Linked DNA regions of Homo sapiens. The protein of the gene in region 1 purifies or fractionates together with the protein of each later gene. This does not show direct contact. Each region holds a gene or a part of one and is shown on either strand. Other genes may lie near its edges.

The links.
Region 2: the proteins of TRAPPC6B (region 1) and TRAPPC11 purify together in Homo sapiens (affinity purification with mass spectrometry; 2 studies listed by BioGRID and IntAct, with this or other methods). This does not show direct contact.

Annotation. Positions count from the first base shown.
Region 1 is NC_000014.9:39,160,043-39,167,344, reverse strand, and holds part of TRAPPC6B (trafficking protein particle complex subunit 6B), read left to right. Parts: intron 1-7,302. UniProt on the Homo sapiens protein: Component of a transport protein particle (TRAPP) complex that may function in specific stages of inter-organelle traffic.
Region 2 is NC_000004.12:183,711,183-183,714,281, reverse strand, and holds the end of TRAPPC11 (trafficking protein particle complex subunit 11), read right to left. Parts: intron 1,683-3,099; coding exon 1,638-1,682; 3' UTR 693-1,637; downstream 1-692. UniProt on the Homo sapiens protein: Involved in endoplasmic reticulum to Golgi apparatus trafficking at a very early stage.

The DNA.
Region 1 (7,302 bases):
TTCCATAAGACTTGAGGTGAGATAAAAGAAAGAAACAGTGTTCTAACCCTCCAAATCAAGGTTTTTCAAACTATGCTTAAAGAGGAATTCTCTTAAAATGGACTAATTGGGCATTTCTCAATTTATGGTGAATGGATTTTGAAAGGCTAATGGATAAAATGTTCTCAAGTTGAATTTTTCTTAAAAATTTGGTGCCTACTCAAAAGTGCATGAACAAGTAGCAAAATTAAGTAGTAGGGCTTAATTCAAAAGCTCATGTGATCATAGGATTTGAAAGTGTCTGCATATAAGCATATTGTAACTGCCCAGTGGGTTCTTCTTCCCCACTGCCCAGGTAGAGCTGATCTATCAAGACAGGAGAATTGCAATAAGGAGTTTATGTAGAGCTGCTAAATGGGAGAGCAGAGTTTTATTATTGCTCAAATCAGCCTCCCCAAACATGCAGAGTCTAGGGTTTATCAAGGATAGTTTGGTAGGCTGGGGGCTGGGGAATGGGTGCTCCTGGTTGGTTGGGGATGCAGTTACAGAGGTGGGGGCCAGAGGACCAGTTGGAGTCATCCGAAATGCAAAAGTCTGAAAAGACATCTCAAAAGGCCTTTTTTAGGTTCTACAATAGTGATATTATTTACAGGAGTAATTGGGGAAGTTACAAATCTGTGACTTCCAGAATAATGTCTGATTATCATTTAACTACCTACATTTTAGCAGAATTCAGACCCCTCTCATAAGCCTAACCTTATAGTCTTTCATTAGTTTTGCAAAGGTGATTTAGTTTCGGGAAGGGCTATTATCATTCTTGCTTTAAGCTTACACTATAAACTAAATTTCTCCCAAAGTTAGCTTGGGCTGCATCCAGAAATGACCAAGGGCAGCTTGGAGGTTAAAGGCAAGATGGAGTTGATTAGGTGAGATCTCTTTTACAGTCATGATTTTCTTACTGTTACAATCTTTGCAAAGGTGGTTTCAATAGTTCCTGCTAATAAATATGTTCCTAGGTGATTCTACAGAGAGCAGATTATTCCAAAAAGAGCATCATGATTTACAGACACTTATTCTAGCTGAACTTGTTTTTTTGTTTTTTTTTTTTTTAAGAGACAAGTCTCTGGGTTAGTGTGGTGGCTCACACCTGTAAATCCCAGCACTTTGGAAGGCTGAGGTGGGAGAATTACTTGAGCCCAGGAGTTGGAGACCAACCTGGGCAACATAGTGAAACAGTGTCTCTATTTAAATAAAAAAAAAAAGAGGCTGGACACGGTGGCTCAGGCCTGTAATCCTAGCACTTTGGGAGGCCAAGGCAGGCAGGTCACAAGGACAGGAGTTCCAGGCCAGCCTGGCCAACATGGTGAAACTCCGTCTCTACTAAAAATACAAAAAATAGCTGGGTGTGGTGGTGCACGCATGTAGTCCCAGCTACTCGGGAGGCTGAGGCAGAAGAATCACTTGAACCCAGGAGGCGGAGGTTGCATTGAGCCGAGATTGTGTCACTGCACTCCAACCTGGGTGACAGAGCAAGACTCAGTCTCAAAAAAAAACAGAGAGAGAGAGAGAGAGACAATGTCTTGCTCTGTCATGCAGGCTGAAATGCAGTGTTGGGACTTTGGCTCACTGCAGCCTTGACCTCCTGGGCTTAAGTGATCCTCCCACATCAGCCTCTCGAATAGCTAGGGCTATGGGCATGCTACCATGTCCAGCTAATTAAAAAAATTTTTTTTTGTAGAAACAGAGTCTTGCTATGTTGCTCAGGCTGGTCTCAGACTCCTAGTCTCAAGTGACCCTCCTGCCTCAGCCTCCTACGGTGCTGGGATTATAGGCATGAGCACTGCGCCTGGCCTCATCCTAAGCATGTTTGAGAAGTGTGGAGAATAGCAGAAAAACTGAAGATAGTGATACGTACAGTAATAGATGTATGTACAGAATTTTACGACAGCATAGGGCCTAAGGAAGTTTCAGGGAAGCCATCTGGGAGAATGTAATACTTGAGCAGAATTTAAAGAATGTGAATGCCAGGCGCGGTGGCTCACGCTTGTAACCCAGCACTTTGGGAGGCCGAGGCGGGCGGATCACAAGGTCAGGAGATCGAGACCGTCCTGGCTAACATGGTGAAACCCCATCTCTACTAAAAATACAAAAAATTAGCCGGGCGTGGTGGCGGTCGCCTGTAGTCCCAGCTACTCAGGAGGCTGAGGCAGGAGAATGGCGTGAACCTGGGAGGCAGAGCTTGCAGTGAGCCGAGATCACGCCACTACACTCCAGCCTGGGCAACTGAGCGAGACTCCGTCTCAAAAAAAAAAAAAAAAGAATGTGAAGTCTAGGGAATAGCACATAAAAAGGCAGGGAGACAGAAGAGAACATGGCACTCTGGAGTTGCTGCAGAAATTTCAGAGTGGTAAAAGGGAAGGATGTTTGTGAATTTGGTTAACTAGCCAGGAGTCTTTAAGGAAAGGACATACCATGATGCCATGCTAAGGAGTTTGGACTTTATTTTTTGTTTGTTTGTTGGTTTGTTTTGAGACAGGATCTCACTCTGTTGCCCGGTCTAGAGTGCAGTGGCTAGATATTGGCTCACTGAAACCTCTGCCTCCTGCACTCAAGCCATCCTCCTACCTCAGCCTCCCAAGTAGCTGGGACTATAGGTGCATGCCACCATGTTCACCTAATTTTTGTAATTTTTTTAAAGATGAGGTTTCACTATGTTGCCCAGGCTGCCCTCGAACTCCTAAGCTCAAGCAATCCTTGGCCTCCCAATGTACTGGGATTTACAGGCATGAGTCACTACATCAGGCCTGGACTTTATTTTGAAGAAAGGGGAGCAGGTGCTGAAATTCCAGTAGAGAATAACATGATTTTTTTTTTAGACAGAGTTTCACTGTTATTGCCCAGGCTGGAATGCAATGGGGTGACCTTGGCTCACTGCAACCTCCGCCTCCTGGGTTCAAGCAATTCTCCTGCCTCAGCCTCCCGAGTAGCTGGGATTACAGGCATGCGCCACCATGCCCAGCTAATGTTTTATGTTTTTAGTAGAGATGGGGTTTTTCCGTGTCGGTAAAGCTGGTCTCGAACTCCTGACCTCAGGTAATCCGCCTGCCTCGGCCTCCCAAAATGCTAGGAGGCGTGAGCCATCATGCCCGGCCGAGAATAACATGATTTTTTTTAGAAATTTACTTTAGTAGAAGTTACACTACCAGAAATATAGAAGATGACACAAAGTAGGAAAAAATGAGACAAGACCAGTTGGAAAGCTATAGCTAAAAACCAGGAGAGAAATGATAAGGCTTTACTTAAGAAGTAAGGGTAGAGAGAGACGATGAATTTTGAAAAGCTTGTAAAAGATAGGCTCCACCGGACTACAGTGTATGGGGGGTTGGGAGCACAGGGGTGAAGAAAATGGAAGTTTTCTGGTTGGAGTAACTAGGTGAATGGTGGTGCCATTAATGAAGTTAGGAAATTTTGGAGGCAGAGCAGGCTGAAGACATTAATAAAATGAATATCATTTGAATATGCATACTTCGAAGGTCCTGTGGGACCACTAGATGTCTATGCCCAATAAAGTCTGTACTAGAAACGCAGATTTAATAGTCACAGCACCATAAGCAGAGTGCATGGTTCCTTAGAAGAAAGTTTAGCAAATAATAAGCCCTATGGTTTCCTTAGTGGGAGACAAACAGCCTTCAGAATATACAAAAATCCCTGCCTTTTTGGAGCTTTATTTTAGCAGAGAGGGGAACAAGGGGCACATGGGCAATATAAAATAGTAAAATGTATGGTATATTAAATGGTGAAAGAAGTTCTGTGGAGACAGATTAAGCAAGGAAGTGGGACTGAGTATCAAAATCAATTTTTAGAAGGTTTGTTAAAGCTGATTAGCGGCCCCATACCCAGAGTTTCTGATTAAGTAAATTGGGAGTGGGACTAGAGAATTTGCAAGTTCCCATGTGATGCTGATGTTGCTGGTCTTTTTTTTTTTTTTTTTTCTGGTGATGAAGTCTCGCCCTGTCACCCAGACTGGAGTGCAGTGGCATGATCTCGGCTCGCTGCAATCTCTGCCTCCTGGGTTCAAGCGTTTCTCCTGCCTCAGCCTCTTGAGTAGCTGGGACTACAGGTATGTGCCACCATGCCCGGCTAATTTTTTGTATTTTTAGTAGAGATGAGGTTTCACTGTGTTAGCCAGGATGATCTCGATCTCCTGACTTCGTGATCCGCCCACCTCAGCCTTCCAAATGCTGGGATTACAGATGTGAGCCACCACACCCAGCCAACACATTTTTAAAATCACTAGGATAGAGAGTTGCCAAAGGGGTATGATGTTGCACTTTTAAAGAAGATGGTTAAAATGGGCCTAAGATGGTGACATGAGAGTAGACTCAAAGGAAGTGAGGGAGTTGGTTGTGTGACTATCTGGAGGAAGAGTTGATGCAAAAGCCCCTGGAATGTGCCTGGCATGTTTAAGGGACGGGGCAGAGTGCATCTGCAGAAGGTTGAAGCCAGAGAGGTATGGGGTCTGGATTGTAGAGGACAGTCCATCAGTCATCCATAGGATTTGGATGTGTTCAGCATAGAGGTACTATTTCAAGCCTTAAGATTGAATGAGATTGTCAAAGAAAGAGCAAAGCAATCTCATGATTTAAGGCAAAGTGTGATAATCAGCTAAGACACTGAGAACTGGGAAGCCTGGATGATTCTGAGACATTTTGAAGCAAGGAACAATAGAACTTAGAGCAGAAAGCAAATGACTCAGGGAAAAACATCAAAGGTGATACCAGGTTTTATAACCTAGGAGAGAAGAATGATTGAAATTGGGATAAAAGGGAGACGAGGAGTAATTAGGAAGAGGATTTGATTTCTGAAAATCAATTATAAGCAGTAGTTCCCTGTTTATCCTGTTGCCTTGTGCCAGGTGCAGTGGCTCACACCTGTAGTCCCACAGCTTTGGGAGGCCAAGCCAGGAGGATATCTTGAGGTCAGGACTTTGAGACCAGCCTGGGTAACAGAGTGAGATCCCATCTCTTAAAAAAAAAAAAAATAGCCAGGCATGGTGATGTGCCTGTAGTCCTAGCTACTTGGGAGACTGAGGTGGGAGGATTGCTTGAACCCAGGAATTTAAAGCTTCAATGAACCATGATCTCGCCAGTGCACTGCAGCCTGGGCGACAGAGCAAGACTTGTCAAATAAATAAGTAAATAGCAGTTTGGTCTTTTGTTGGAGGAACGTCTATTCTTAGCTTGGACACTGCGGTTTTTCCTTGGGCAGCAGAAGCAATGTGGCGATTGAAGAAGTGACCTAAAACTTTGATGTTAGGTAGAAGCAGATGGCCCAAGCCAAGACAAGTGCTTGTAAATCCACTGGTGGGAGCCCCTCCTCCTAACAGCAGGTTATTAACGCTGCCAGAAAAAAAGTGTCCCCTCTACCGGTCTGGTGAAGAAACCTCATCGCTACGGGCCTGGGACTGTGGCACTTCTAGAGATTCTCGTTACCAGAAATTGACCTAGCTTCTCATCTGGAAGCTGCCTTTCTAGAGGTTGGTGAGAGAGATCACCCAGGATTTCAAAACCAACTTTAGGTTTCAGAGCACAGTCATTGGGGTGCTGCAGGAGGCTAGTGAAGTGTACCTGGAGGCTAGTGAAGTGTACCTGGTGGGTTGGTTTGAAGATGCTAATTTGTGTGCCATCTACGGTAAGAGAGTTGGCTCTCATGCCCAAAGACATCCAGTTGGCTCGCCAGACACGGAGTGAGCGAGCTTAAGTGAAGGCAGATTTTAAGGCATTTTATATGAATTCTGTAAAATACTTTGGTTTAATTTGTGACTTTTTGGGGAGAAATTATTTATAATATGTTGCATTTGTGCTTAAGTCATTCCGTCTTTTGGGATGAATGTGAAAAGTGACTGTTCATAGACCTCAGTGACGTAAGCACTGTTGCTCAGGAGTGACAAGTTGCTAATACGCAGAAGGGATGGGTGACATTTTTTCATTCTCATGACGCATGTTTCTGTAAGTTAATGACTTGTTAGGTAGCTATTAAGGAACTAGAGTTGATAAATAAATGTGTATAGGTTCCTTTTGCAATATAACTGGTTATTACTTGATCCAAGTGTTTAACATTTGGAGCTAAGTCTGACCATACATTACTGTGATAGAATGTGGGCCTTTTCAAGGGTGAAGATACAAGCCTTAACCACAGTATAACTTGCAGTTTCCTTAAACAAACAAAGAAATAAAAACCTAGCATGGAGTACATTATGTGCATTTATAATAGCTATTTTAAATATTGTAGTGTCAACATTCAAAAATTAATTCTTTTACATTCGCAAATGGTGGGGAGTCTTGTCATTAAGGTGTGTATAACTTAGAATCCACTTGGTTTTCTCCTAACTGGACTGCATTTGTTTTCATAGTAGTAAAATGTTATGTGTATTACACCTTGCATAAGTCCTCATTCTACTACGTGTTAACTAACCCTCTAGATGATAATGCAGATGCTAACTGTGGGATTTTATTTATAAGAACTCTAGAATAAATACCAGTTATTCCTACCAACATCGGCTGTTACTAATATTCTGAAGTAGTTAGTGCAACTTTTCATTGTGTTGTGGTTGGTCTCCTAAGTAGGTTGGATTTTTCTCCTCTTCTAAGAGAAAACAATAGTGAAATTATTTTCTTTCTCTTTTCTCTCTGTTTCTGTCTCTTTCTCTCTCTCTTTCTCCCTTCCCTTCCCTTCCCTCCCCTCCCCTCCCCTCTTCTTTTCTTTTCTTTCTCTTCTCTTCTCTTTTCTTTCTTTCATGGGGTCCCTTGCTCAACCTGTTGCCCAGGCTGGAGTGCAATGACATGATCATGGCTCAGTGCAGCCTCAACTTCCTGGACTCAAGCAATCCACCTGCATCAGCCTCCAAAATGGCACATGCTACCATGCCCAGCTATTTTATTTTTACTTTTAGTACAGATGTGGTCTTGCTATGTTGCCCAGGCTGGTCTTGAGCCATTGAGCTCAAGTGATCCTCCTGCTTTGGCCTCCTAAAGTGCTGGGATTACAGGCATGAGCCACCGTGTCTTGAGGGGTTTGTTTCTATTAAAAGACTTGGTGTCAGGGAGGAGCACAAAGCTTTAACCCATTGAACCTCTGACAGTTAAGATGGTGTTGGGTTAGGTTACATCTGGTTACTATCCTGGGAAAATCACTTCTATAGAGATGGCCTTCCAAGTGGTTTTAAAATGTATCTTTCTGTCTGGGCGCGGTGGCTCACGCCTGTAATCCCTGCACTTTGGGAGGCCAAGGCAGGTGGATTGCTTGAGGTCAGGAGTTTGAGAC
Region 2 (3,099 bases), on another chromosome or scaffold:
CAGGTTTATAACCAGGGATGTTTTTTAACAAAACAGAGTAGGATACAAAATATGTAAGAGTACACAGAATGCATTCTTCTATGAAACTTGTTTATAGTTTCACGTATTTACATACACATGTATACTCATATATGTAGTAAATTATGTAAAATGTATCAACAAATTCTGATAACATGGAACTCTCCAGTAGAAAAGTGAATACCCTCTTCAGCCTTCCCATAAAAATATAGATGACACTGGCTGAGCACCCTCATACATAACTTTGGGTCTGGCACTGTTCCAAGCTCTTCTCATGTATGAATCTATATCATCCTTCATAACAAGCCTATAAGATGGGTGTTATTTACATCTTATATACAAGAACGCTGAGATACACAGAGGGTAAGGAACTTGAACAACGTCACCCAGACAAAAGCAGCAGAGGAGGGATTTGATCCTAGACAGCTGGACTCTAGAGTCATGCTCCATGGCCTCTACCTGAAAAGCCATGTTACAACAGGGAGCTCATGTCCTCCCAAGATAGCACTGTCCAACTCTCACATAATGTTACCAGAGCCAGTTCTAGAACACAGCCCAATTTTCAATCCTGTGCTTGCCATTGCATCTCATGCAACAGTGTTCTTAGTAAAAGCTGTTCCATGAAGCTGAAATCAAACAAGCTCAAAATAAAAGATAGAGACAGACAAGCATACTTGAAAGAGAACATGTTTATTTACATCACTATTTCCTTTTTACAATGCCTCCACCTTTTGAATAATAAAATTTTCCAGGAAATCAGGTCATTTTAAATTATTAAGGTATTTTAACAAATACAATTTTCACCCTATGATTTTTATTTACATGAGTTTTCAAGAGTTTTAAATAGTTCTTTTGAAACTGCACAATATAACCAGAAGGCCTGACTCAGACCCTGCATCTTTTCCAAAAACTTTCAGTCTAGGAAATTATGTTTATAATCAAATCCTTGCACTTTGGATCTTTTCCGATGAGGATTTTATTAACACCTCTAAAATATGAACCTGCTTCATAAATGATCCATATTTTGGCAGCAAGCTGAACCTATTTGACACTTCTTGATAGTAAGCAAAGATATTTTTGATACCTTAATTAAACTGCTTTGATTAAAACTTTCTGGAAGTTTTCCGTATCAGTCATACAACTCCCTATGTTGTTGTGTATGTGTTCTGAGTACACACTGAATTTATGAGAATGATTTATTTCCGGTCTGGCCAGCTCTGAAAGAGACACATGGGGGATTCGGAACTTTATGGCACAGGCACTGGTGCATCTGCTCTCTTTGTCCAGTCACACTTGGGATGCTTAATTTTCCTGATATTATACATGCAAATCACTTACTTTTCATAGAATTTACCATTCATCAAATGACTTTCAACAATAACAATGGTCTGACATTCTTTCATGTCGTACTGAGATTTCAGATATTTATTAGAGAAACTATAAGACAGATTTTCCTAATATTTTTGAAGTATGAGTTCCTCTGAATAGTTGGTATAACATCCATTAAAAAATAGAAAAGGTTAACTTTTTACCATGATCAAAGCTAGAGTTCACAATGAAACACCTGCATAGCTCTGCCCAACATCTCTGTAACAACAGCCAAGGGCCGGTCTTGAACATCATGCAGCAGCAATAGAGGTATCATCCATGAGTCGACCCTGTGGCTTTAAAGTGGGAAAAACAAAGTGGGTTTACAAAATTATAATATAATAACAAAAGCTCTATTAACTGGAAGGATTTTTAAATTCTTGAAACTGTTTTACAAAAACAGAATAAATGAGTGTAAGCATCAAAATAAAAATGGTGATATGGTGATTCTCCTCCTTTCACCCCACCTCTTTCTTTCTTCACTTGCACCTGGGGATGGCCACGGCACAGGCTGGGAGCTGCCCTCTCCTGTAGCCATCACCAGCTGACTCTGCACTTCCACCCGAAGAATCCTCTTCTGTCAGTACTTCTCTCTCAACCCTGCGTTCCAGCAGCTACTGCCAGGCCATCTCCCACATGTGGAATGGAACCTTGTTTATCATTCCTACTTAACTGATAGTTTTATTCTCTCTCTCTTGCTCAGGGCCCTCCTGTGTCTCAAGCTTTAAGCAGGTCCAGAGCCTGAGCTGACAGGTAAGTTCCTTTTGGGGACTCAAGGTTGCCCAATCTCCTGTTTGAGAAAAAGTGTCTGCAGTGAACTCCAATGCATGCTGCAAGGATAAAAGTGGCAGATAAAAACAAAAACTGCCCTATCTCTAAGATCACTGATTGAAAGAATTTAAAACATCACGTCAGAAAAGTCAAGACTAAGAATGAATAAAAGGTATCGTAACTGTTTTTAGTTGTAAAATTTCTGGCAGGTTAACAACATCCCAGAGGGATAGCTAGTAGCTAAAAGAATACAATTCTTACAAATAATTTTATTTTATTATACAGATATACAATAGCAGACCTTTGTGGGGAAAGCAGGAGAAAGATGATCAGGAAATGAAACAGAAGAGTGTTCACAATCAAAAGTGATTTGCTATGCTTTAAGCAGAAAGATTCTGAGGCATTCCCGAGGCAGTGAAGACAGCACTCCTGCTTTCAGTTTGCTGCTGCTGTGGTTGTTCAGATGTATATAGCAGTGTGTGTGTACATACATACAGAAACATAGCTAAGTATAGCTTCCAGACATTCACGGCAGGAATGGAGTGAGTGAAATAGGTTCCCGATCCTTGATTCTTGACTGTTTTTTTAGTACTGATGGGAGCTGCTCAATTTTAGAAACAAAATCATGGCTCAAGCTAGTGAAATCCCTGCCAAATGTAGCTTTTACAAGCAAGAGCAAAAAATGAGTGCATCATACAATTAGAAAACCAAAGCCTTTTATTCAAAGGAAGAAAAGTATGGATTCATCCTTGCCTAGGACGTCACTGTCTGGTATGGCAGTCGCTAGTCACATTTAGCGATTGAGCACTTGAAATGTGGCAGTGTAACTAAGCAAATTTAATTTAAACTGAATCTCAATAGTCACATGTGGCTAGTGGCTATACCGGACAGCATAGCTCTAAAGTTTAATACAGGTGCACTAGGACCTAAAATTTTAGTCAG